Linked DNA regions of Homo sapiens. The protein of the gene in region 4 purifies or fractionates together with the protein of the main gene of each other region. This does not show direct contact. Each region holds a gene or a part of one and is shown on either strand. Other genes may lie near its edges.

Region 1 (3,500 bases), on a different chromosome or scaffold from region 4:
CCCCAGCTGGGGTGGCAGCAGCATGCACGCAATCACTGCCTGCGGGCCCCAGGGTCCTCAGAGCACCAATTCCCCCAAGGGGTGCCACAGACCCTGGGGAAGGGGCTCAGAGTGGGAGGACAAAGGAGCCAGGGGGCTGCCTTGACAGGTGGCAGACAGCACAATGGGGCTGCCAGGGTCAAGTTCCTGCTCTGGCCAGGAACCTGGGCCATGGCTTCCCAGGGCAGAGTGGGGTGACATGCAGGGACCTTGTCCCCACTCTGCCACCCAGACTAGCAGGGAAGGGAAGGGCAGCTGTGCAGTAGATACATGATCCTTGCTTCCAAACTGAACTGCAAGAAACCAGCCAACACTTCTGTTAGACGTCTGGAAAATCACTAACCTGATGCATGCACCGGGAGCCACGAGGCAGCTTCCCCTCAGAGATGTCAGTGATTGGGAAAATTGGTGTGCGCACTCAGGCTAGAGCCCTGCCTTCCCTCCAGAGACTGGATCCTGGGCCAGGGTCTCCGGGGCTACCCTGGAACCTGAGTGGCTGCACTTGGGAGCTCAGCCCAGCAGTCACCTCTCAGCCTTGGGGCGGTGCCCAAGCTGCCCCGCGGCTCCCCTGTGTAGTTGCCTCTCAGCTTTGGGGGCCCCCGGCAGGTGTGAAGTGCCCCCAGGCTCCCTGTGCAGTCGCCCCTCAGCGTCGGGGGCCCCTGAGAGGTGTTTGCTGCACCCCCCCGGCTCCCCAGTGCCACCAGCTGGGGGCGGGGTCCAGGGACATGCGTAGCCACTAGGTGCGTTTTCTCTCTCAACACTTGAGTTGTAACTTCAATAATTTCTCACTTCTGATGTTTCAAATGAGAGCAGCGGCTTAAAGGAGCAGTCGCAGTGACAGACCCAAACCCCTGACAGGAGGGGGTAGCTGCCCAGGAGGGTGCCGGACATGCAATGAACAGTCCCCCTGCCCCACCCCACTCCAGAGCAGGTGGCGGATGGCCTGCGTGGTCCCCAGCGAGGCCCACCTTGACGAGGTCGTCGATGTTGACCTTGCCATCCTTGTTTTCATCCAGTGCTGCGGCCAGGCTGGTGAGCTTGCTTTCGGGAATGTGCTTGACTTGCTTCATGGCGTTGATGAGCTCAGCGACACTGATGACGTTCTCCCTGTGGAAGCACAGCCTGCATGTGGCCACGGGCAGGCGTCCTGCCACACAGGGCCTCACTGCCCACACCTGTGGCTGCAAGTGGTCAGCACTGACACAGGCGGCTCCGCGTGAGCCAGGCAACCTCCAGCACGGACCCCCAAGGTATGATCCCATCCTGCATACAATGCCAAGAGCTCCCAGGGCCAGCGTGGACACAAACACAGAAACACCACCAGGTCCAGGGTTTCCACGGGCATGTCTGCCCCTCAGTGGCTGCCCCTCTGGGGCCATGGCTGCTGGGCTGTTGTCCTCAGGCCTGTGGCCACTTGGCAATACGTTCACGATCATGGGGGCTGTGGTGCCCTGGGCAGATGAGGGCCTCCAAGAGCAGGGACGAGAGCATGAGCAGGGTGCCACGTGCAGCCCACCTACAACACTGTGGGTGTGGAGGTGGAGATTTGGAACCTGCAGGGCACCAGCAGTCACCCAACAGCTGTTTCATTCGCCCAGAAGGGACTCACAAAACGGCAGCTCCCTCAGCCACTGCTGCGCAGGAATCTGGGACATGTCGGGCACAGAGAAGGCCGACTGCCCGAGCTGGTGTCATTACTGAGCGTGGGTGGGGTCAGGAAGAGGGAGAGGCAAGAGAGAGCCTGGTAATTAGAGGAAACAGAAGCCAACAGAGGTGGAGGTTGGAGCGGGAGGAGAGGGGGCTGTGGGAAGAGGAAGAGGGGCCAGGAAGGGACGAACTGCTCTCGGAGAGGCAGAGACTGACATGCCAGAGGGTTCCTGGCTGGGACTGCTGGTCAAAGGTGGAGAGGCAGCCAGGCAGAGGCTACAATGTGCCCTTTGGAGCCAGAAGGGCCCAGCTCGGATCCAGCAAAGGGACCAGCCTCCCTATGTGAGTCTCCGATCCCTCTCCCGCGCCCACCACCCCACTCACCCCGTGGGCATGCCGTTGGCCGGGGCCAGCTTGCCAGCCTGCTGGTCCATCTCCAGCTGCGAGATCAAGCCATCGATCTGCCCGATCATTTGCTGCACCCTTTTTGTCAATCTCTTGCTGGCTTTAGATTCTTCCACGTACTTTTCTTCACCAGTCTTTGAAAGTTCCTTCTTGATCTCCTGCAAGTCCTAATAAAATTATTTTGGTTGTAAAAAGTTTGTCTTAAAAGAAAAAGGGGGTCAGGTGTAGTGGCTCACGCCTGTAATCCCAGTACTTTGCAAGGCCAAGGCGGGCGGATCACCTGAGGTTAGGAGTTCGAGACCAGCCTGGCCAATGTGGTGAAACCCCGCCTCTACTAAAAATACAAAAATTAGCTGGGCATGATGGCAGGCACCTGTAATCCAGTTACTTGGGAGGCTGAGGCAGGAGAATCGCTTGAACCCAGGAGGCAGAGGCTGCAGTGAGCCAAGACCATGCCAACGCACTCCAGCCTGGGCAACAGAGCGAGACTCTGTCTCCAAAAAAAAAAAAAAAAAAAAAAAGAATCTGGTTGGGCACAGTGACTCATGCCTGTAATCCCAGAACTTTGGGAGGCCAAGGCAGGAGGATCACTTGAGGACAGGAGTTCGAAACCAGACCAGGCAACATAGCAAGACTTTATCTCTACCAAAATTCAAACAAAAAATTAGCCAGGCGTGGTGGTGCACACCTGTAGTGCCAGCTACCCAGGAGTCTGAGACAGGAGGATGGCTTGAGCCCAGGAGGTGGAGGCTGCAGTGAGCCAAGATCACATCACTGCACTTCAGCCTGAGTGACAGAGCGAGACCCTATCTCAAACAACAACAAAAAAAGGTAATAAATTAACTTGTAAAGGTAATTAAACCCATTAATTCAAACCAGAGAGTTATAAAATTGTATTTCTATCATACAAATTTCTTATTTTTGTACACTGCCTTGCAAGCAAAAGACATAGAATCTATTCTGAATCTCAATTTCCTTCACATTTGTTAAAGAAAAATTAAGTGAACTAATTAATCAAGGAAATTAAGTGTCTTTGTTTTTTGAGATAGGGTCTTGCTCTGTCACCCAGACTGGAGTAAAGTGGCATGATCTCAGCTCACTGCAGCCTCCAACTCCCAGCCTCCCACTCCCAAGCAATCCTCCTGCCTCAGTCTCTGGAGTAGCTGGGAGTACAGGCACACAACATCATGCCTGGCTAATTTTTGTATTTTTTGCAGAAATGGTGTTTCACCATGTTGCCCAGGCCGGTCTCAAACTCCTGAGCTCAAGTGATCCTCCTGCCTTGACCTCCCAAAGTGCTGGGATTACAGGCCTGAGCCACCAGTGCCCAGCCTTAAGTGTCTTTTTAAATTCCAAGTTGTTTTTTTCCCACGAGTAAACACCATGAGGAAGAATGGGGAAGGCGAGGG
Region 2 (3,500 bases), on a different chromosome or scaffold from region 4:
CAGCTGGGGCCTACCTGGGCTTGGGCCGCTACCTCCAGGGGTGCAGCTATAGATGCTCATGACTCTGACTTCTGCCTCAGGGATTCCCCCAGCATAGGAGAGGGTGCTGCGGTTATCTCCTCAGCAAAGGTATCCAGGCCCCAGGCCTGACCAGGGGTTGCCTGCCTCCAGGTGCTGCTGTGCGGCTGTGTGATGAGGCCCAGGGTTGGCTGGAGCCCGACCTCTTCAACTGTACCTCCCCTGCCTTTCGAGAGCTCAGTCTGCTGGTGAGACTGCCCAGACCTTTTCCTGCAACCTAAGACCTTCCTTGGCCTGTGGTGGGCCCCAGATACCACACCCTAGCCCTTGAACTCCTGAGCCTTTCCTGGTTGCCCTTTAATCTGGCAAGGCTTTCTCCCTGTGAAGCTTTAGAGGAAGGCCTAAGGGACCACAGAGCAACCATCTCCTTGTCTTGGCAGCTGGATGGCCTAGAGCTGAACAAGACGGCACTGGATACCATGGAGGCCAAGAAGCTGGCTCAGCGGCTACGGGAGGTGACTGGCCACACTGACCACTATTTTAGCCAAGATGTTCGAGTCACTGCCCGCCTGCTGGCCCACCTGCTGGCCTTCGAGAGCCATCAGCAGGGCTTCGGGCTGACAGCCACACAGGATGCCCACTTCAATGAGGTGGGGCTGTGCCCTATGTTCTCAGTGCCTTGGCCCCCCAGCTCCCAGCCTCCTGCCCCTGGATCCCCAGCTCAGGCTCCTGCTGTTCTCTTGGGAAGTGAAGGTCCTGGGCTCTCCCTCTGTCCTTGTCCTCTCCAGCCCCGCCCCCTTGCCTGTTGGAGCCCCTCTGAGCACCTGTCCAGACCTCTCATGCCTGCCCTATCCCCTCATACATCCTCACCACCTGGCTGAACCCAATTCTATCTCTGTCTTCCCAGAATCTGCTGTGGGCCGGCTCTGCACTGCTTGCCCCAGAGACAGGGGACTTGTGGGCGGCGCTGGGGCAGCGGGCCCCTGGGGGCTCCCCAGGCAGCGCGGGACTGGTGAGGCACCTGGAGGAGTATGCAGCCACACTCGCAAGGAATATGGAACTCACATACCTGAATCCCATGGGGCTGGTGACGCCTAATATCAGTGCGTTGTGGGTGGGGTAGGGCGGGGCACAGCAGGGGGGCCATGAAAGGGCAGGTACCTGAAGGTCTGAGGGGCTGTGGCTATCAATGCCAATGTTAATGGCAGGAGACTCAGCCACCGCCCTCAGCGTTTTGTAGGGACAGGCTCCGAGCTGGTAGCACAGAAAACAGATTGTGGGACTCAGGTGCGGGATGCGAGTAAGAGGGAGTAGAACCCTTGGCAGGGGGAAGAGGTCCATGATGGGCCTCCCCTTTCTTTCTCCTGGGTAGTGCTCAGCATTGACCGCATGGAGCACCCCAGTTCTCCCCGGGGGGCCCGTCGCTACCCTCGCTACCATAGCAACCTCTTTCGAGGCCAGGATGCCTGGGATCCTCACACCCATGTGCTGCTGCCTTCCCAGTCCCCACGGCCATCCCCATCTGAAGGTGAGAGCCCCTAGGGGACCCCTGGGCCAAGTCCTGTCTCTCTGTCCCCCCAACCAGATACTATGTTGCCCTCCTGCCAATTTTCCCCTTTCTAGACCTCCCCAGTGTCAGACCCTCCCACATCTCCCCTCCACCCTCCCTCCCATATTTCCCCTCCACCCTCCCTCCCACATCTCCCCTCCACCCTCCCACATCTCCCCTCCACCCTCCCTCCCACATCTCCCCTCCACCCTCCCTCCCACATCTCCCCTCCACCCTCCACCCTCCCACATCTCCCCTCCACCCTCCCTCCCACATCTCCCCTCCACCCTCCCTCCCACATCTCCCCTCCACCCTCCCTCCCACATCTCCCCTCCACCCTCCACCCTCCCACATCTCCCCTCCACCCTCCACCCTCCCACATCTCCCCTCCACCCTCCCTCCCACATCTCCCTTCCACCCTCCCTCCCACATCTCCCTTCCACCCTCCACCCTCCCACATCTCCCCTCCACCCACCACCCTGCCTCTCACATCTCCCCTCCACCCTCCACCCTCCCTCCCACATCTCCCCTCCACCCTCCACCCTCGACCCTCCCACATCTCCCCTCCACCCTCCACCCTCCCACATCTCCCCTCCACCCTCCACCCTCCCACATCTCCCCTCCACCCTCCCACATCTCCCCTCCACCCTCCCTCCCACATCTCCCCTCCACTGTCCACCTTGCCACACCTTCACTTTGTCAGAGCCTCTCCCTCATCACAAATGACCCCTCCCAGGCCTTGACTGTTACTTTCTGGGTTCATGCTCCCTGCACTCCCCAATTCTGCTCCTGCAGGGAAGAGACCCCCATGCTTGATCGGGTTCAGAGCTGGGTTGGTGGGTGCTTTGGGTCAAAGGTCACTGACAGAAGCTCCTCCTTCTCTCCTGGCAGTTCTGCCCACAAGCAGCAGCATAGAAAACTCCACCACCTCAAGTGTGGTCCCCCCACCAGCCCCGCCAGAGCCAGAGCCTGGGATCTCCATTATCATTCTCCTCGTTTACCGCACCTTAGGGGGACTGCTCCCTGCCCAGTTCCAGGCAGAACGCCGAGGTGCCAGGTACTCAGGCCCCTCACCCCTGAGCTTCCTACGAACTTCTCAGCCTGGCAGCCCCTTTTTTGGTGGGTAGATGCGTAGGTTCACAACACACAGAGAGGAGCACAGCTCCAGGGAGCCCCATCCTTGCCGGGTTCTGTGTGAATCTTATTCTCTGGAGTTGTGCAGAGTGACAGAGCCACAGGCTGACAGACACAGAGCCACACACAGGAGGGATCCATGAGCCAGGTACAGACAGACCAAAGGGCTGACAGAGACAGACAAGGACAGGCTGACTGATGGGGGTAGGAGGGAGGGCAATCAGAGGCAAACAGTTGCAGGTCCCCTGGAGCTGCTCAGCCCCTCAGCAGCCCAGCAGAAGCTGGAGGGATTCTTAGAAACAGCTTCCACTCTGGGGACATCCCAGACCCTGGGTCAGCCCTGGCGAGTGGCATGAAGACGGGGTGAGGCAAGCAGGCTGAGCATGGGGAGGTCAGCAGTGCGTAAGCCCAGATGGGTGTCTCCCCAGGCTTCCTCAGAACCCCGTCATGAACTCCCCGGTGGTCAGCGTGGCTGTGTTCCACGGACGCAACTTCCTAAGGGGAATCCTGGAGTCCCCCATCAGCCTAGAGTTTCGCCTGCTACAGACAGCGAATCGGAGCAAGGCGATCTGTGTGCAGTGGGACCCACCTGGCCTGTGAGGACCCCCATTCTGGAAACCCTTGGTCCCGTTAGCCCTTGGGAGGCCAACTAATAGTCCCAGCCTTCCCCTGGGGCCCCCACTAGTGCTGTTGTGCAACCCGGACCATGAGGAATGCTGTACCCCAACTCCAGGCACCCTCAGCCCTTCCCATGATCTCTCACAAACCCCTGCCTGACACTGGGTCACAGTTGTGTCTA
Region 3 (3,500 bases), on a different chromosome or scaffold from region 4:
CAACATATGAAAATCAGTTGTATGTCTATATCCTAGCAATGAACAATCTGAAAAGGAAATTAAGAAAACAATTCCATTTACAAAAGCATCAGAAAGATTTAAATACTTAGGAATAAATTTAATCAAGGAGGTGCAAGACTTGGATGCTGAAAACTATAAAGCATAAGTTAAATAAATAAATCAAAAGACATCCCATGTTCATGGATTGGGAGACATTATTGTTAGAATGTCAGTACTCCCTAAATTGATCTACGGATTCAGTGCAATCCCTATAAAAATTTTAATTATCATTTCTGCAGAAATGGACAAGGCGATCCTATAATTCATACAGAACTGCAAGAGACCCTGAATACCAAAACAATCTTGAAATAGAAGCACAAAATTAGAAGACTCACACTACACAATTTAAAAACTTACCGCAAAGCTACAGTAGTTAAATTACAAGGATAGACACCTAGATCAATGGATTCAAATTGAGATTCCAGAAATAAACCCATATTATCTATGGTCAGTTGATGGTTTTGTTTTGTTTTGTTCTGAGACAGAGTTTCACTCTTTTTGCCCAGGCTGGAGTGCAATGGCACGATCTCGGCTCACTGCAACCTCCACCTCCTGGGTTCAAGTGATTCTTCTGCCTCAGCCTCCCAAGTAGCTGGGAATACAGGCACGTGCCACCATACCCGGCTAATTTTGTATTTTTAGAGTAGAGACAAGGTTTCACCATGTTGGCCAGGCTGGTCTTGAACTCCTGACATCAGGTGATCCACCCACCTCAGCCTCCCAAAGTGCTGAGATTACAGGTGTGAGCCACCACGCCTGGCCATGATTTTTGACAAGGGCGTCAAAACCATTCAGTGGAGGAAAGAATAGTCTTTTCAACAATGATGGTGGAAGAACTGAATAGCCACATACATAAAAGCATAAAGGTGGTCCCTTACCTCATACCATATATCCCAATTAATTTAAAAATCAATCAAGGACCTAAATGGAAGAGTTAAAACTACAGAACTCTTAGAAGAAAGCATAGGGACAAATCATCATCACCTTGAATTTAGCAGTGGTCTCATAAATTATAACACCAAAAGTACAAGCAGCAAAAGAAAAATCAGGTAAATGGACTTTATCAAAGTTAAAATATTTTATGCATCAGAGGACATTGTCAAGAGGCAGAAATAGATTTGGGATTGCCAGGGATTGAGGAGGCAAGGGAGATGGGGAGTGACTACTTAATAGGTATGAAGTTTCTTGTGGGGATGATGAAAATGTCCTGGAATTACATTGTGGCGATGGTTGCACAACTCTGTGAATATATTAAAAATTATTGAATTGTATACTTCAAAATGCTTTAAACTGTGAACCTTGTTATTTGAATTTTACCTCAATGTAAAAAACCAACATTCTTCAAAGTAAGATTAATTAGGTATTCACATAATGAATTTCCTGAATTAGTATCCATATAAAATACTTTTGAACAAATCCAAGAAAACTTTAAGGGGGAAAAAATCTTTTCACCATATATCCATACAGTCATTAAAAGTATATACATTCAAAATATAAGCATATAATTATGTTTATATTTTGATTTATACCCATCTAGGTCTTTTAAAAACTGTTTTTATTATGGTTATTTTAAAATATTTCAGTCGGTTTTTGGAATGGCAGTCAGGAAGCCTAGTGTTTTTGATTTTTGTTTTTGTTTAGAGACAGGGTCTTGCTCTGTTGCCCAGGCTGGAGTGCAGTGGTAGGATGATAGCTTCATTGTAACCTCAAACTCCTGGCCTTAAGCAATCCTCTTGCCTCAGCCTCCAAAGTAACTAGGACTACAGGTGCACACAACCACACCCAGCTAATTTTTAAATCTTTATTATTATTGTTTTATAGAGAGAGGGTCTCGTTGTGTTGCCCAGGCTAGTCTCGAACTACTGGCCTCAAGTGATCCTCCTGCCTTGGCCTCCCAAACTGCTGGGATTATAGCCATGAGCCACTGTGCCTGGGCAGGAAGGCCAGTGTTTAAAGCAGCAGTGTATCTAATGCTTCACAGGGATCTAGTGTAATGTAATGGAGAAATCTTTGTTGATTAGTGAAATTGTTATGTATTATAGGGTCTTCTTATTTGAAGGATGATGAAATGGTATGATTTGCATTTTCTATAACTGAAGAACGTTTTTGTCCCCACTTAACGATAGCTACCTGCCATCACTTTTGTTTAATGCTTGGTCTTGTACGTTTATCAATAATTTCTCTCCTCTTGCTGAGATAAGCACTAATTATTAGAAATATAATGCAAGCCACATATGTAACTTTAAATTTTCTAGTAGCCACATTTAAAAAGTAAAAAGAAATAGGTGAAATTAATCTGAATAATGTTTTATTTAGCTATATTCAAAATATTAATTTTTTTTTTTTTTTGAGACGGAGTCTCACTCTGTCACCCAGGCTGGAGTGCAGTGGTGCAATCTTGGCTCACTGCAAGCTCCGTCTCCCAGGTTCATGCCATTCTCCTGCCTCAGCCTCTCAAGTAGCTAGGACTACAGGCACCCGCCACTGCGCCCAGCTAATTTTTTGTATTTTTTTTAGTAGAGACAGGGTTTCACCGTGGTCTCGATCTCCTGACCTCGTGATCCGCCCGCCTCGGCCTCCCAAAGTGCTGGGATTACAGGCATGAGCCACCGCGCCCGGCCCAAAATATTAAACTATTTTAACATATAGTCAGTACTTTTCTAAAATCTGTTAATGAAGAACTTTACATTCTTCTAAGTCTTCAAAATTCGTTGTGCATTTTTACACTTGCATCACATCTCAATTCAGACGCATCACATTTCAAGTGCTCAATAACCACATGTGGCTAATGCCTAGAATACTGGACAGTGCCGTCTTAGATAATCACAACTAGGATATTGTCTGTAGAAGAGATGGATTTGTTATTTCTGGGAATGGAATAACAACATTTTGTTTCTCTTTGTGGCCCCAAAACAAGCATTAGTTTATTAGCCAGGTGTTGACTTAAAAGATACAAAGAAAAGCCTCTGTGTTTTAGTGGGGTGAAGAAAAGAAAACTTGGCATAAGCATAGTTTTGAGGAATGAGAATAGGAGTGTAGGAGGAAGGACCTGAATTCAGAACAAGGGAAGTTATACTGCATAATATTGTGGATAAGTCCATGTGTGGATGGGACAGCATGCAGAGGGGAGTACTCAGATTTGGGGAAAATGTCTAGTCCTGGACTATGTTTCTGAGTCAGATGTTAAAAGTGCCTAGTTGGCCAAGGGACTATCTTCCCAATCTTCACCCTCCCCATACCTGCCCCATGAAATGGATGTCATAAATTATATAGCGACTAAAAGCAGGTATGATCAACCGGGCATGGTGGCTCACGCCTGTAATCCCAGCACTTTGGAAAGCTGAGGCAGGTGGATCACCTGAGATCAGGAGTTCTAGACCAGCCTAGCCAACATGTTGAAACCCCATCTCTACTAAAAATACAAAAATTAGCCGGGCGTG
Region 4 (5,598 bases):
CAAATATGTAAAAGGTTCTGAAAGATTTCTTCCATGTGAAGATTTTTTTCTGTGGCTGATTCTGCCTCCATGTACCTCAGCTTGGTGGTCCTAAAAAATCTTGATTGCTTCTTGACCTATTTACAGTATAATCATTTATTAATGGGGTGGTAGTAGAAGGTTGGATTTATGCCTAAAGAATGAAATGTGTGTGTATCACACTTCACTAAGATCTATATCAAAGACAGACATCAAGTCTAATGCCACACTAAAGGCCATCGGACAAAACCAATAAAATATGTCAAATAAAATGTCATTTTAAGTGTTGTAATTGGCATTTGTGACATAGGCAATTACATGTTTTAACAGAGAATTCCAGTATGTTGTTTTAGTGGTACAGCCAGATGAAGTGTGTCTGTGGGCTATCAAAGTGGGAGATTGGGGATACTGGCTTTGTTTCAACTGTCTCACGTACTCAAACCTTAGACCATCTTATGTACACAGATCCTAGACCAGTAGTTGATTTTATTTATTAGGTCTACTGAAAAATTCAGTTGGAAATAACCCAATCTGGGATTAACTACTTCCATATTCTTTTGTATAACATTTTAGTAAAGCTCAGTATATCAAGTGATTGTCATCCAGAAGGGGTGGATGACAAGGTAATCTTGATTCCAGAGACCTTTGAGTATTAATTAAAAACACACTTTTAGCCAGGTATGGTGTTGCAAGCTGTAGCCCACCTGCATGGGAGGCTGAGGCAAGAGGACAGCTTGAACCCAAGAATTGGAGGCCCACCTAGATAATATAACAAGACTCTGTCTCTTCAAAAAAAGACTCTTTTTAGACTAGTGTTGTATTTGGTAGTATTTTGCACATGATAGACTCTGTACAATAGTGTGGGGGATACATTTTTTTTTTTTGACATGGAGTCTCGCTCTGTCACCCAGGCTGGATACATTTTACAAGTTCTGCAGTGTTCACATTTCAGATGTACAATCACTTGGGGTAGAAGACAATGTTGCTGACACCAACAATGTTACTGAGGGAAGATCCTATGGCAGAACTACGGTTATAAGGTATTTTGTAAAAGAAAATCTCCTGACCAAAATTTATTAGATGCATAAAATTGTTTTTAAGCAATGGAGAGACATAATCACTAAACTCAGTGAGCTATTGCAATCAAACTTTCCAGGGATTGTTTCCTTCAATTCAGAGGTCACCAAGGAATGTAAAATAAGTGCAGAGGTAGGAAGCAGTGCTTCAGTGCAGCAGATCTCAGTGACTTTGTGTTTTGAGGCTATGTATTATCCCCCTGATAACTTTGAAGATGAATGTTGTATTTCATAACCAGTAAAATAATTGTGTAATGAGGAGAGGAGTAGGCTACTGCCTGTGATCATCGAAATGAGAATCACATAATATTCCTGTAATGAAATCACTGAAACTATTGGGAAGGGGGTGTATTTGAAGATAAGTATAAATTGCACCTTCTAAAAGGCAATTTTGGTATTACTGATACTCTCCGGAAAAAGTTGAAATAAATCAACTTGGAGGTACTTAGAAAAGTGGAGAAAATGTTAGGAACAATGAAAGAAAGATAAAATGTATCCAGTATATTTCTAATGAGTAAGTATGGAAAATTACTGTACTCTGAGACGGTTTAGGCCAAGTCTGTGTTATGGCTATCTTTATATAGATAGTGCATGTTTGAAGATTGGGGAAAGCTTATGTCAATAAATGTTTATGTACTTAATCTACATGATTTGCCTAAAAATCCTCAAAGTTGGGATGAAGGCATTCCTAAGAGTACATTTTTAGACGTCATTAAATATACAGACGTATCCACGTAGTTTTTGTTCTTTCAGTTAGGCACACAATTATAATTATTGCACTGGTTAACTTGAAGCAGCAGAGGCTGTAGTTTCCTAGTGCTGACTCTGGGCGCCGCTGTTGGCCAAAGTGGAGAGCTTGGCGCTCCAGATCTCCTCGCGCAGCCGCAGCGCGCTTTCCAGGGCAGCCCCAGCTCAGACTCCCCAGCGCCAGCCTTTACACCGCTTCCTCCTCGGAAAAAGAAGAATTTTTTCTTGAACTGGAACTGCAACTAAAGTCCGTTCGGAGATCCAAAAATCTGCAATACAGAGGTTATTTGTAACCCGGCGTCTCCAGGCTGGTGAGCAAGCTGAGGAGAGCAAGAGGGATGGGGAGCGGCGCCGGGGAGCTGGGCCGGGCTGAGAGGCTGCCAGTGCTCTTTCTCTTCCTGCTGTCTTTGTTCTGCCCGGCGCTCTGTGAGCAGATCCGCTACAGGATTCCCGAGGAAATGCCCAAGGGCTCCGTAGTGGGGAACCTCGCCACGGACCTGGGGTTCAGCGTCCAGGAGTTACCGACTCGAAAACTGCGCGTCAGTTCGGAGAAGCCTTACTTCACCGTGAGCGCAGAGAGCGGGGAGTTGCTTGTGAGCAGCAGGCTAGACAGGGAGGAGATATGCGGGAAGAAGCCAGCTTGTGCTCTGGAATTTGAGGCTGTTGCTGAAAATCCACTGAACTTTTATCACGTGAATGTGGAGATCGAGGACATTAATGACCACACGCCAAAATTCACGCAAAATTCCTTTGAGCTGCAAATAAGTGAGTCTGCACAGCCTGGCACACGATTTATATTAGGATCTGCCCATGATGCGGATATTGGTAGCAACACACTGCAGAATTACCAACTCAGTCCCAGTGATCATTTCTCACTGATAAATAAAGAGAAATCAGATGGCAGTAAATACCCTGAGATGGTATTGAAGACACCTTTGGACAGAGAAAAGCAGAAATCCTACCACTTGACTTTGACTGCCTTGGACTTTGGAGCTCCACCCCTAAGCAGCACTGCACAGATACACGTTCTAGTGACTGATGCCAATGATAATGCTCCAGTGTTCAGTCAAGACGTATACAGGGTGAGCCTTTCAGAAAACGTGTACCCGGGGACCACGGTGCTACAGGTGACTGCCACGGACCAGGATGAGGGTGTCAATGCCGAGATTACTTTCTCTTTCAGTGAAGCTAGCCAGATCACCCAATTTGACCTGAACTCTAACACCGGGGAAATTACTGTTTTAAATACATTAGATTTTGAAGAAGTCAAAGAATATTCCATAGTTTTGGAAGCAAGGGACGGTGGAGGAATGATTGCGCAATGCACAGTGGAGGTAGAAGTCATAGATGAAAATGACAACGCCCCAGAAGTGATATTCCAGTCTCTACCCAACCTAATTATGGAGGACGCCGAGCTGGGAACACATATTGCTTTGCTCAAAGTCCGTGACAAGGATTCCAGACACAATGGAGAAGTGACTTGTAAATTGGAAGGTGATGTTCCATTTAAAATATTAACTTCTTCAAGAAACACGTATAAATTAGTGACAGATGCTGTTCTAGACCGCGAGCAGAATCCAGAGTACAATATAACCGTTACGGCAACAGATCGGGGCAAGCCTCCCCTCTCCTCCAGTTCCAGCATCACCCTGCACATTGGTGATGTAAATGACAACGCTCCGGTTTTCTCACAGTCTTCCTATATAGTCCACGTGGCCGAGAACAACCCGCCTGGAGCCTCTATTTCACAAGTCAGGGCTTCTGATCCGGACTTGGGGCCCAACGGCCAAGTCTCTTACTGCATCATGGCCAGTGACCTGGAGCAGCGGGAGCTGTCATCCTACGTGTCCATAAGCGCGGAGAGCGGGGTGGTGTTCGCGCAGCGCGCCTTCGACCACGAGCAGCTGCGCGCCTTCGAACTCACACTGCAGGCCCGCGACCAGGGCTCGCCAGCGCTCAGCGCGAACGTGAGCCTGCGCGTGTTAGTGGACGACCGCAACGACAATGCGCCACGGGTGCTGTACCCCGCGCTGGGTCCCGACGGCTCTGCGCTCTTCGATATGGTGCCGCACGCTGCAGAGCCTGGCTACTTGGTGACCAAGGTAGTGGCGGTGGACGCAGACTCAGGACACAACGCCTGGCTGTCCTACCACGTGCTGCAGGCTAGCGAGCCCGGGCTCTTCAGCCTGGGGCTGCGCACGGGCGAAGTGCGCACAGCGCGTGCCTTAGGCGACAGGGACGCCGTCCGCCAGCGCCTTCTGGTCGCCGTGCGTGACGGTGGACAGCCACCACTCTCGGCCACTGCCACGTTGCACCTGGTCTTCGCCGACAGCTTGCAGGAGGTGCTGCCGGATATCACTGACCGCCCCGACCCCTCTGACCTCCAGGCTGAGCTGCAGTTTTACCTAGTGGTGGCCTTGGCCTTGATCTCAGTGCTCTTCCTCGTGGCCATGATTCTGGCCATTGCCTTGCGCCTGCGACGCTCCTCCAGCCCCGCCTCCTGGAGCTGCTTCCAGCCTGGTCTCTGTGTTAAATCCGAATCCGTGGTTCCCCCCAACTACAGCGAGGGGACTTTGCCTTATTCCTACAATCTATGTGTTGCACATACAGGAAAGACGGAGTTTAATTTCCTAAAATGTAGTGAGCAGTTGAGTTCAGGACAAGACATACTTTGCGGTGATTCATCTGGGGCCTTATTTCCACTTTGTAATTCCAGTGAATTGACTTCCCATCAGGTGAGTTTCCTTTAAGTATAATTTAATGCTCATTGCCTACCCATTTCTCCATATTCACAAGAAAATATACATATTTGCAGGAAAATATATAATTTTTAGATGTCATGGATCATTTTAGGAAAGTTGTAGTCAGTTAAAAAGCTGTCATATCATTCTACAAAGGAGGAGTAAAGTAGGAGCAATTGTGTGGCCCAACATTTGTTTGTTTTTTAGCCAAGCTTAGATTTATAAAGCAATGAGGGTGTGGTTTTAACCACAAAGTGAAAGTGTTAGACAGTTGTTGGCTCTCTCCTAAAAAGTGAATGAGATTTTTCCTATACATTTTCCTTCTTGTTGACTAATATATGATGAATACTTTTTTCAGCTTGGATATACCATAAATATAAAAATAATAAAGCCAAAGAATTTAAGCTAAAATTCAACACTTTTCTTAACTAATTTAACTGGTATGGTCTCCATAGTAGTCCACTGTTTTGTTTCCTGTGTTAACTTCCCTTTTGTTTCAAAAGCTCTTAGAATAAGGAGTCAACTGGATTTTTATGTCCATGGACCCCTTGTGATTATATGCAGTGTACGCTGTGTGTGCGTGTGTGTGTGTGTGTGTGTGAGAGAGATCCTTTTACTTAGAAAAAGGTCTACTATGCTCATTAGAAGATCAAAAGCAGATTCTCCTTACTTGTAACATAGGAGTTTCAGGATTAATCTGTATTCAAGCTCATTCTATATCCTTCATCAAAGAAAAGACAATGTTTTGTGTCTGTTGTCCCTCTCACACACAGCCCTAATATATAATGTGTAACTGCCTTATCTGCAGCCCTAAACTAATATAGCTAGAGGTCTTCTAATCATTCTCCTACCTCTAGGAAAGAAATATAGTCTTGAAAACTGCCAATCTGGTGTGCATACAAAATATATACAAAATACCAAGGAACATTATATGAGCCTTTTGCTAGGTATATCTAAGCAACTGCTTCAGTTAATGGCCACTTTACAAATTGCTGAAAGAAGGAAACGTCTTTCGA

Evidence for each region.
Region 1: the proteins of PCDHGB4 (region 4) and LETM1 purify together in Homo sapiens (affinity purification with mass spectrometry; 2 studies listed by BioGRID and IntAct, with this or other methods). This does not show direct contact.
Region 2: the proteins of PCDHGB4 (region 4) and CELSR3 purify together in Homo sapiens (affinity purification with mass spectrometry; 2 studies listed by BioGRID and IntAct, with this or other methods). This does not show direct contact.
Region 3: the proteins of PCDHGB4 (region 4) and ST7L purify together in Homo sapiens (affinity purification with mass spectrometry; 2 studies listed by BioGRID and IntAct, with this or other methods). This does not show direct contact.

What each region holds. Positions count from the first base shown.
Region 1 is NC_000004.12:1,814,657-1,818,156, forward strand, and holds part of LETM1 (mitochondrial proton/calcium exchanger protein precursor), read right to left. Parts: intron 2,259-3,500; coding exon 2,071-2,258; intron 1,147-2,070; coding exon 1,008-1,146; intron 1-1,007. UniProt on the Homo sapiens protein: Plays an important role in maintenance of mitochondrial morphology and in mediating either calcium or potassium/proton antiport. Mediates proton-dependent calcium efflux from mitochondrion.
Region 2 is NC_000003.12:48,645,887-48,649,386, reverse strand, and holds part of CELSR3 (cadherin EGF LAG seven-pass G-type receptor 3 precursor), read left to right. Parts: intron 1-171; coding exon 172-266; intron 267-458; coding exon 459-668; intron 669-925; coding exon 926-1,121; intron 1,122-1,390; coding exon 1,391-1,546; intron 1,547-2,458; coding exon 2,459-2,624; intron 2,625-3,129; coding exon 3,130-3,297; intron 3,298-3,500. UniProt on the Homo sapiens protein: Receptor that may have an important role in cell/cell signaling during nervous system formation.
Region 3 is NC_000001.11:112,584,642-112,588,141, reverse strand, and holds part of ST7L (suppressor of tumorigenicity 7 protein-like), read left to right. Parts: intron 1-3,500.
Region 4 is NC_000005.10:141,385,706-141,391,303, forward strand, and holds the start of PCDHGB4 (protocadherin gamma-B4 isoform 1 precursor), read left to right. Parts: upstream 1-1,992; 5' UTR 1,993-2,179; coding exon 2,180-4,576; coding exon of another isoform or gene 4,577-4,591; intron 4,592-5,598. UniProt on the Homo sapiens protein: Potential calcium-dependent cell-adhesion protein. May be involved in the establishment and maintenance of specific neuronal connections in the brain.